2 separate regions of the Homo sapiens genome follow, and region 1 is linked to region 2. Evidence: fine-mapped expression QTL. A gene starts in region 2. The other region holds a variant in brackets. All regions are shown on one strand. Distances are from middle to middle. Region 1 overlaps ZNF511-PRAP1 (ZNF511-PRAP1 readthrough). Region 2 holds the start of PRAP1 (proline rich acidic protein 1).

The links. PIP is the estimated chance that this variant, and not a neighbour inherited with it, causes the effect. A credible set is the group of variants that fine-mapping cannot tell apart.
Region 1: its variant is the best candidate, but not a certain one, in a credible set for the expression of PRAP1 in testis (GTEx, PIP 0.59).

Annotation. Positions count from the first base shown.
Region 1 is chr10:133,317,590-133,321,971 of GRCh38, forward strand. All of the region lies in intron 5 of ZNF511-PRAP1 (ZNF511-PRAP1 readthrough), which reads left to right. Among named protein-coding and RNA genes, the nearest start is that of ZNF511-PRAP1, 11 kb to the left of the region's middle. RefSeq lists an enhancer at 953-1,182. The variant C/T (reference allele first, on the strand shown) is at 2,079.
Region 2 is chr10:133,345,053-133,349,434 of GRCh38, forward strand. It overlaps PRAP1 (proline rich acidic protein 1), which reads left to right and starts at 2,321. Exons shown (of 5, transcript NM_145202.5): 1 at 2,321-2,373. The coding sequence starts at 2,366. The region is part of intron 5 of ZNF511-PRAP1 (ZNF511-PRAP1 readthrough); the gene reads left to right. RefSeq lists enhancers at 1,687-2,346, 2,347-3,006, 3,007-3,666.

The DNA of each region.
Region 1 (4,382 bases), 27 kb before region 2:
TGGAAAGACCACACCTCCCCCCCAGACACAGAGATGGAAAGACCACACCCCCCCCCCCCAGACACAGAGATGGAAAGACCACACCCCCCCCCCCAGACACAGAGATGGAAAGACCACACCCCCCCCCCCAGACACAGAGATGGAAAGACCACACACCCCGCCCAGACACAGAGATGGAAAGACCACACACCCCCAGACACAGAGATGGAAAGACCACACACCCCCCCCCCCCCAGACACAGAGATGGAAAGACCACACCTCCCCCCCAGACACAGAGATGGAAAGACCACACCCCCCCCCCAGACACAGAGATGGAAAGACCACACCCCCCCCAGACACAGAGATGGAAAGACCACACCCCCCCCCAGACACAGAGATGGAAAGACCACACCTCCCCCCCAGACACAGAGATGGAAAGACCACACCCCCCCCCCCAGACACAGAGATGGAAAGACCACACCCCCCCCCAGACACAGAGATGGAAAGACCACACCCCCCCCCAGACACAGAGATGGAAAGACCACACACCCCGCCCAGACACAGAGATGGAAAGACCACACCCCCCCCAGACACAGAGATGGAAAGACCACACACCCCCAGACACAGAGATGGAAAGACCACACACCCCCCCCAGACACAGAGATGGAAAGACCACACACCCCCAGACACAGAGATGGAAAGACCACACCCCCCCCCCAGACACAGAGATGGAAAGACCACACCTCCCCCCCAGACACAGAGATGGAAAGACCACACCCCCCCCCCCAGACACAGAGATGGAAAGACCACACCCCCCCCCAGACACAGAGATGGAAAGACCACACCCCACCCCCCGAGGACACAGAGATGGAAAGACTACACCTGCCCCCCAGACACAGAGATGGAAAGACCACACCCCCCACCCCCCTCCCCCCGGACGCAGAGATGGAAAGATGGCCGCATCCCCGGGAACACGCACAGGTGGAGAGGCCAGGGCCCAGCTGTGCATGGACGACTCCGAGCTGAAGTGCAGCCGTGGGTGCCAGTGCCGGTCTCCGTCCTCCTTCACAGGAAACACGGAGGCCGGGGCCGCCAACCCCGGTCCCTTCATCCTCTGGCCCCTTCGCCCGCTCCTCACACGGACGGGCTGTGCCTGTGTCTGCTCCACTGGCAGCCGGTCGATACCCCCGGGCGTGCGGAGATGAAGACCTCAGGCGACCGACCGCCGTCCTCCCCTTTCCCCGCGGCCCAGGTCGGCGTGTCTGGCTGCAGCGCCACCTCCTGGAGGCGTCAGCACCCTTCTCCGCTGGGTGTCAGTTCGGACACTGTGGAGGGACGCGCTTGGAGGATGTGGGCGGCCCCGCGCGGAGCGGTGCAGAGTCGGCGGTTGTGGTGGTCCTGGCCCAGCATCCAGGCCTCGCATTGCCAGGGGCAGGCGGCTGGGAGCCTGTGGGAGGAGGTGTGGGAGCAGGGCAGGGGTCCCCAGAGATCCTCCCGGTTCCAGCCACCCTGCGCGAAGGTAAGGCCTCTGCCGCGGGCCTCAGTTTACCCATCTGTAGATGAGCAGGTGACGGGTGAGCTCCAAGAATTAGCCAGATTTGAAGCCCAGTGCTGGGAACACGGTGGACACATTCCTTGACTCCTACTGTCCCCCTTGCCCCTCTCTGCCTCTCATGCTCATACACGTGCACACTCAGATGATCCACTCCCCCTCCTCTCTGTATGTGCGTCCCTGCTCACACACGCTCACACTCACACAATCCACGCCCCTCCTCTCTGTGCATCTGTGCTCACACTCACACGCTCACACACACAATCCATGCACCTCCTCTATGTGCGTCCATACGCTCACACTAACACACACACAATCCACACCCCTTCTCTTTGTATATGCATCTGTGCTCACACTCACACACTCATACGCTCACACACACACAATCCACACCCCCTCCTCTCTGTGCGTCCGTGCTCACATACTCACATGCTCACACTAACACATGCTAACACACAATGCACACCCCCTCCTGTCTGTGTGTCCGTGTTCACACGCTCACACACGTCATCCACACTCCCTCCTCTCAGTACGTCTGTGCTCATAC[C/T]CTCACACACTCACACTAACACACGCACTCTCACACACACAATCCATGCCCCCTCCTCTCTGTACGTGCGTCCATGCTCGCACACAGGGAAGCCAGAGGCCCTTCCACCCCCATCCTGTTGGCTCTCACGTGGGCTGTGTGGATCTGGAAACCTAAATTCCTGATTTTGATCATTGCATGAAGGTTCCGTAAGAAGACGCCCTTGTTTGCAGGGAATCCACACTCAAGTATATACGGATAAAGAGGTCACTTCCTCTGAATGCAAGGAGTTGCCAGGCCGGGTGGGGAGGGTGGGACTTACGGCAGCTCCAGGAGCCCCTGGGCCCTTCTCATCTCCCATCTGGCTCCAGGGGAATGGGAGATGCCCGTCCCTGGGGCAGAGCTCACCCCTCCTCAGGCCCCACCCCCCACTCCCCACTCAGATGCCCCATTCACTCATTGGCTCAGAAAAAAAGGTAGTAGGTAGCAGCTAAAGAGACGACAGATTATTGATAGATGATAGACAATAGACGATAGGTGATAGATGATAGATAATAGATAATAGACAATAGATAGTAGGTGATAGATAGTGGACGATAGGTGATAGATAATAGATAATAGACAATAGACATTAGGTGATAGTAGACGATAGGTGATAGATGATAGATAACAGTAGGTGATAAATAATAGACGATAGGTGATAGATGATAGAGGATAATAGGTGATAATAGGCGATAGACAATAGATGATAGATTATAGACAATAGGTGATCGATGATAGATAATAGGCCATAGACAATAGGTGACAGATGATTGATAGGCTGGTAGGTAGATAGACGAGGTGGTGGAATGTGATAGAGCAGATGGGATGGAATGCCAACTGCTAGAGTTTGGATGTTAACATTTGATCCCCAATGTTCGAGGTGGGGCCTGATGGGAGGTGTTTGGGTCATGGGGCAGATCATGAATGGCTTGGTGCCACCCTCAAGGTAATGAGTGAGTTCTTGCTTGATTACTTCCTGTGAGGAATTTTTTTTTTTTTTTTTGAGTTTCACTCTGTCGCCCAGGCTGGAGTGCAGTGGCACAATCTTGGCTCACTGGAAGCTTCGCCTCCCGGGTTCACACTATTCTCCTGCCTCAGCCTCCTGAGTAGCTGGGACTACAGGCACCCACCACCACACCCCACTAATTTTTTGTATTTTTAGTAGAGACGGTGTGTAGTGTGTCTGGAGTTGGTTCCTTCTGGTGGGTTCATGGTCTCACTGACTTCAAGAATGAAGCTGCGGACCTTTGTGGTGAGTGTTACAGCTCAAATGTGGCATGGACCCAAAGTGTGTGCAGCTGCAAGATTTATTGTGAAGTGTGAAAGAACAAAGCTTCCCCACTGCGGAAGGGGACCCAAGCGGGTTGCCGCTGCCGGCTGGGGGTGGGGAGGCAGTGGTGGCCAGCTTTTATTCCCTTGTTTGTCCCTGCCCATGTCCTGCTGATTGGTCCATTTTACAGAGTGCTGATTGGTCCATTTTACAGAGCACTGATTGGTGCATTTTACAAACCTCTGGCTAGTGACAGAGTGCTGATTGGTGCATTTTTACAGAGCACTGATTGGTGCATTTTACAAACCTCTAGCTGGCTATAGAGTGCTGATTGGTGCATTTTTACAGAGCACTGATTGGTGCATTTTACAAACCTCTAGCTAGCTACAGAGTGCTGATTGGTGCATTTTACAATCCTCTTGTAAGACAGAAAAGTTCTCCAAGTCCCCACTCAACCCAGGAAGTGCAGCTGGCTTCATCTCTCAACGGAGTTTCACCCTATTAGCCAGGATGATCTTGGTCGCCTGACCTTGTGATCCGCCCATCTTGGCCTCCCAAAGTGCTGGGATTACAGGCATGAGCCACCGCACCTGGCCCGAGAATGGATTTTTTTTTTTGACGGAGTCTTGCTCTGTCACCCAGGCTGGAGTACAGCCACGCGATCTCAGCTCACTGCAAGCTCTGCCTCCCAGGTTCATGCCATTCTCCTGCCTCAGCCTCCTGAGTAGCTGGGACTATAGGCACCCGCCACCACGCCCAGCTAATTTTTTGTATTTTTTTTTTTAGTAGAGACGGGGTTTCACTGTGTTAGCCAGGATGGTCTCGATCTCCTGACCTTGTGATCTGTGGGTGAAGGATTACCCAGGTGCCGAGGCAAGAGACTGAAGGCACAAACTGTAGCAGTATAATAAAGAAAATAGTTAGAATAAAGAATAGTTATAATACAAATTAGATATAGAGATGATCATGGACATTATCAATCATTAGTATAAACATTATTAATCATTAGCTCT
Region 2 (4,382 bases):
CTGGTCCCCAGGCAAGAAGGGGGTTTGTTCAGGAAGGGGCTGTTTTCATCTTTGTTTCAACATTAAACTATAAACTAAGATCCTCCCAAAGTTGGTGTGACCTACACCCAGGAATGAACAAGGACAGGTTGGAGGTTAGAAGCAAGGTGGAGTCGGTTAGGTCAGATTCACTATCAGGTTTTCGCAAAGGTGGTTTCAGGAGCAGCCCCAGGCAAGAAGGCCAGAGGAACATCTGTTCTCACCCAAGCCCAGCGGCTTCTTCGGGTGACCCCTCCTCAATAGCTCAGACGCTGTGGGTCACGTTGGAAATTCCTGAGTTGGCCTTTCTTGAGGGCCCTCACTCCACCCCCTTGGAAGCACGGCCTCCAATTGTGTCTGAACATGCAGCTTCGGGAGAACCATACCCTGCAGGCCGGCGGTCTCAGAGCCCCCAACAGTAGCTGCCCGCTGGGGGTTGTCGAGGAAAAGAGTGAAACCCTGTAAAATACTTGGAGAGTGATTCTGAGCCAAATATGAGTGACGGAAGGCCCATGATGCCGTCCCAGGAGATCCTGAGAACATGTGTGGCCCGAGAGGGTTGGGGTGCAGCTGGTTTGATACATGTTCGGGACACGAGACATCACTCAGTACGTGGGAGATGTACATGGGTTTGGTCCAGAAAGGCGGCGGGTGTCCAGGTCATTGGTGGATTCAGTAATTTTCCAATTGACAATTGGTCAAAAGAGTTAAGTTATTATCTAAAGACCTAGAATCAATAGAAGGGAAAGTCAGGGTTAAGATAAGGTGTTGTGGAGACCAAGTATATGCAGATAGAATCAATAAAAGGGACTATTTCTTGTCAGAGTCTGTTCTATTAGTCTTAAGGTCTCTGTTTTAATGTTAATGCTGGTCAGTTTTGCCTGAATTCCAAAAGGAGGCGGGTACAATGAGGCCTGTCTGACCCCCACTTCCCATTATGGCCTGAACTAGTTTTCAGGTTAACCGTGGAATGCCCTGGGCTTAGGGAGGGTCCATCAGTCGGGTGGGGTCAGGCGGAGATTGGAATTGTGTTTTTGTTTTACAGGGTGTGCCAGGGACGGCTAAAGAAGGTGGTCAGGGCCGGGCGCAGTGGCTCATGCCTGTAATCCCAGCACTTTGGGAGCCCGAGGCAGGCGGATCACTTAGGTCAGGAGTTCGAGACCAGCCTGGGCAACATGGCGAAACCTCGTTTCTATTAAATATACAAAAATTAGCTGGGCGTGTTGGTGCACACCTGTAGTCCCATCTACTCAGGAGGCTGAGGCGGGAGAATCACTGGAACCCAGGAGGCGGAGGTTGCAGTGAGCTGAGATCGCGCCACTGCACTCCAGCCTGGGTGACAGAGTGAGACTGTCTCAAAAAAAATAAAATAAAAAAGGCAATGAGGGCACTGGGCCCCGTGGAGCGGGCCCTGGCCACACAGCGTGCAAGACTCCTCAGGCTGGTGTGCCCAGTAAGGAAGGACAGGAGGGAGCGCCTGGAAGGGGTGGGGAAGGTGGTGGCGTTGGGGGTGAGGGTTCCACGGTGGTGGAGCTGAGCTGGTCCCGCCCTGCCGCAGGTGGTGGGCAGGGGCAGGTGTGACAGGCAGGTGGGCTGGGGCTGGATGGGGGATTTGTCACGCCCACCTGAGGAAGGAAGTGCTTCAGCTGAGCTGGGGACAGCTGCCCACGACACCCTTCCAAGTTGCCTTGGTTGTGAGCACGGTTCAGCCTTCATGACAAGCAGGTTTTTTTTTTTTGGTGTTGTTTTGTTTTGTTTTGTTTTTTGACTGAGTTTCGCTCTTTGTTGCCCAGGCTGGACTGCAGTGGCGCAATCTCGGCTCACTGCAACCTCCGCCTCCCAGGTTCAAGCAATTCTCCTGCCTCAGCCTCCTGAGTAGCTGGAATGACAGGAGCCCACCACCACGCCCACTTAATTTTTTTTATTTTTAGTAGAGACGGAGTTTCACTATGTTGGCCAGGCTGGTCTCAATCCCCTGACTTCAGGCAATCCACCTGCCTCAGCCTCCCAAAGTGCTGGGATTACAGGTGTGAGCCACCGCGCCCGGTCAACAAGCATGTTTTTAAAGGCAAATTTCTTCCTCAGTCGTGTGGCAGGCCCTGAGCAGGCAGCTGGGTGTCCCCGCTCAGATCCAGGCCCGAGTGGGCTGGGCGGCTGCAGAGCCAGTCACCTGAGCTACCCAGGGTGGGATCCCTGGCCCCGACCTCTGTCCTGACACGCCCCAAGCGGCAGCAACAAAGCCCCAATTGGCCTGGGCCTGGGCAGGAGGAGCTGGGCCGGGTGCCAGATACTGGGATCAGCCACTGCAGCTCCCTGAGCACTCTCTACAGAGACGCGGACCCCAGACATGAGGAGGTAATGCCACCATCCCTGAGCCCCAATCCCCACCCCACCCAAACCTGGAGGCCTGGCCCTTAGCCAGAGGGGGCCCAGCTGTGCTGCGCTCCAGGGGGCCTGGTTCAGGGGAGTGTGCGGGTGGGAGGGAGAAGGAGGGGCCCTCTGAGGGTCTGGGGTCTGCCACCAGGCTCTACCTCCTCTGTGGCCCCGAGTGCACTTGCCTCTTGGTTCCCCTGGCCTGGTGGAGAATCACCCAGGGACCCCCACCCGGAACAAGGAAAGGGGAGGTGCCAGGCTGAAACCAGCAGGCCTGTGACTGCCCAAAAGGAAGGGGGCTGGGGGAGGGGAGGGGCTGGGGCGCAGGAGCCAGGGGCTGCCCTGAGGTGGTGTCACCCTGGGAGCTGTGATCTGGAGCTCAGGGAAGCACCCGGGCTCCCGCTGGACCCTGGAATCAGAGGCTGCCTTCCTTCTGTGGGGGTGTCTGTCTTCCCCCTCCTTGTGTGGGGGACCCCTCTCCCCGCTCCTGTGGAGGTGCCCTCCTCCTCTTCCCCCTCCTCTAAGCCAGGGCCCTCCCTGCCCCTCCTCTCCTGGTGTTTCTCCCTTGTAGAGAGGTGGCTTCTGGGTAGCTTGGGGACCCTTTGGTGCCCAGAGCCGTTTGCCTGGAGAGGGGACCCACGGGGATCCCACAGCCAGGCTGCTTGGCAGTCACCACCGACCACCTTTCTAGGGGCTACCGTGACCCGAATCCCAGGCCCCCAGGCTGTGTGTCATGGGAGGTGGGCACCAGGGGTGGCCCAGGCAGCACGGCAGTGGGATTGGGGTCCAGTGCCCAGACAAGAGCCCCTGCCCAGCATCAGAACCAGCTGGGGGTCCTGAGGAGAAGCAGGGCCCCCGAACCAGACCAGACCAGGTCCCGGCCCCGGGCTGTCCGGGGCATCCCCCCTGCCCTTTGACCTCTCACCATGGCTGAGTCACCCAGAGAACGGGCAAAGGTCCCTGTGGAGCTGCAATCCAGGCCTGCAGGGTGTCCCAGACACTGATTCTTCTGCCTCAGCAGGAGTAGCTGCGATTACAGGTGTGTGCCACCACCCCCAGCTAAGTTTTGTTTTTTTTTTTTTGAGACAGAGTGTCTCGCTCTGTCGCCCAGGCTGGAGGGACTGCAGTGGCGCCATCTTGGCTCATTGAAACCTCCACCTCCCAGGTTCAAGTGATTCTCCTGCCTCAGCCTCCCAAGTAGCTGGGATTACAGGCACCTGCCACCACGCCTGGCTAATTTTTTTTTTTTTTTTTTTGTATTTTTAGTAGAGACAAGTTTTCACCATATTGGCCAGGCTGGTTTCGAATGCCTAACCTCAAGTGATCTGTTGCCTCAGCCTCCCAAAGTGCTGGGATTACAGGCGTGAGTCACCGTGCCCAGGCAGTTTCATATTTTTAGTAGAGACGGAGTTTTGCCATGTTGGCCAGGCTGGTCTCAAACTCCTGACCTCAGGTGATCTGCCCACCTCAGCCTCCCAAAGTGCTGGGATTATGGGTGTGAACCACTGCGCCTGCCCCAGACACCCTTGACTGCAGCCCTGCTGAGCCCTGTACAGACCCAGAGCCCCGCCCCACCCCAAGACCACCCCACCCTGACAGACGCAAGCCTCCCCCGCAGGGCCCTGAAGAGACAAGTCTGCACCACATCACACACGCACGCACACACAGACACACTCCCAAACCCTCACACTCTACACACCACACACGCATGCACACAGCACACACCCACCCCCAAACCCTTACGCTCCACCCCACACACAACATACATACACATCCAACACATACATGCACACACAGCACACACACACACCCAAGCCCACACACTCCACACCACACACAACATACACACACATCCACCACACACAAACACACATAACATACACACACAGCACACGCACCCCCGAACTCACACACTCCGCACCACACACAACATACACATGCACCACACACTGAAGCACACAGTGCACACACACCCGAACACGACACCACCC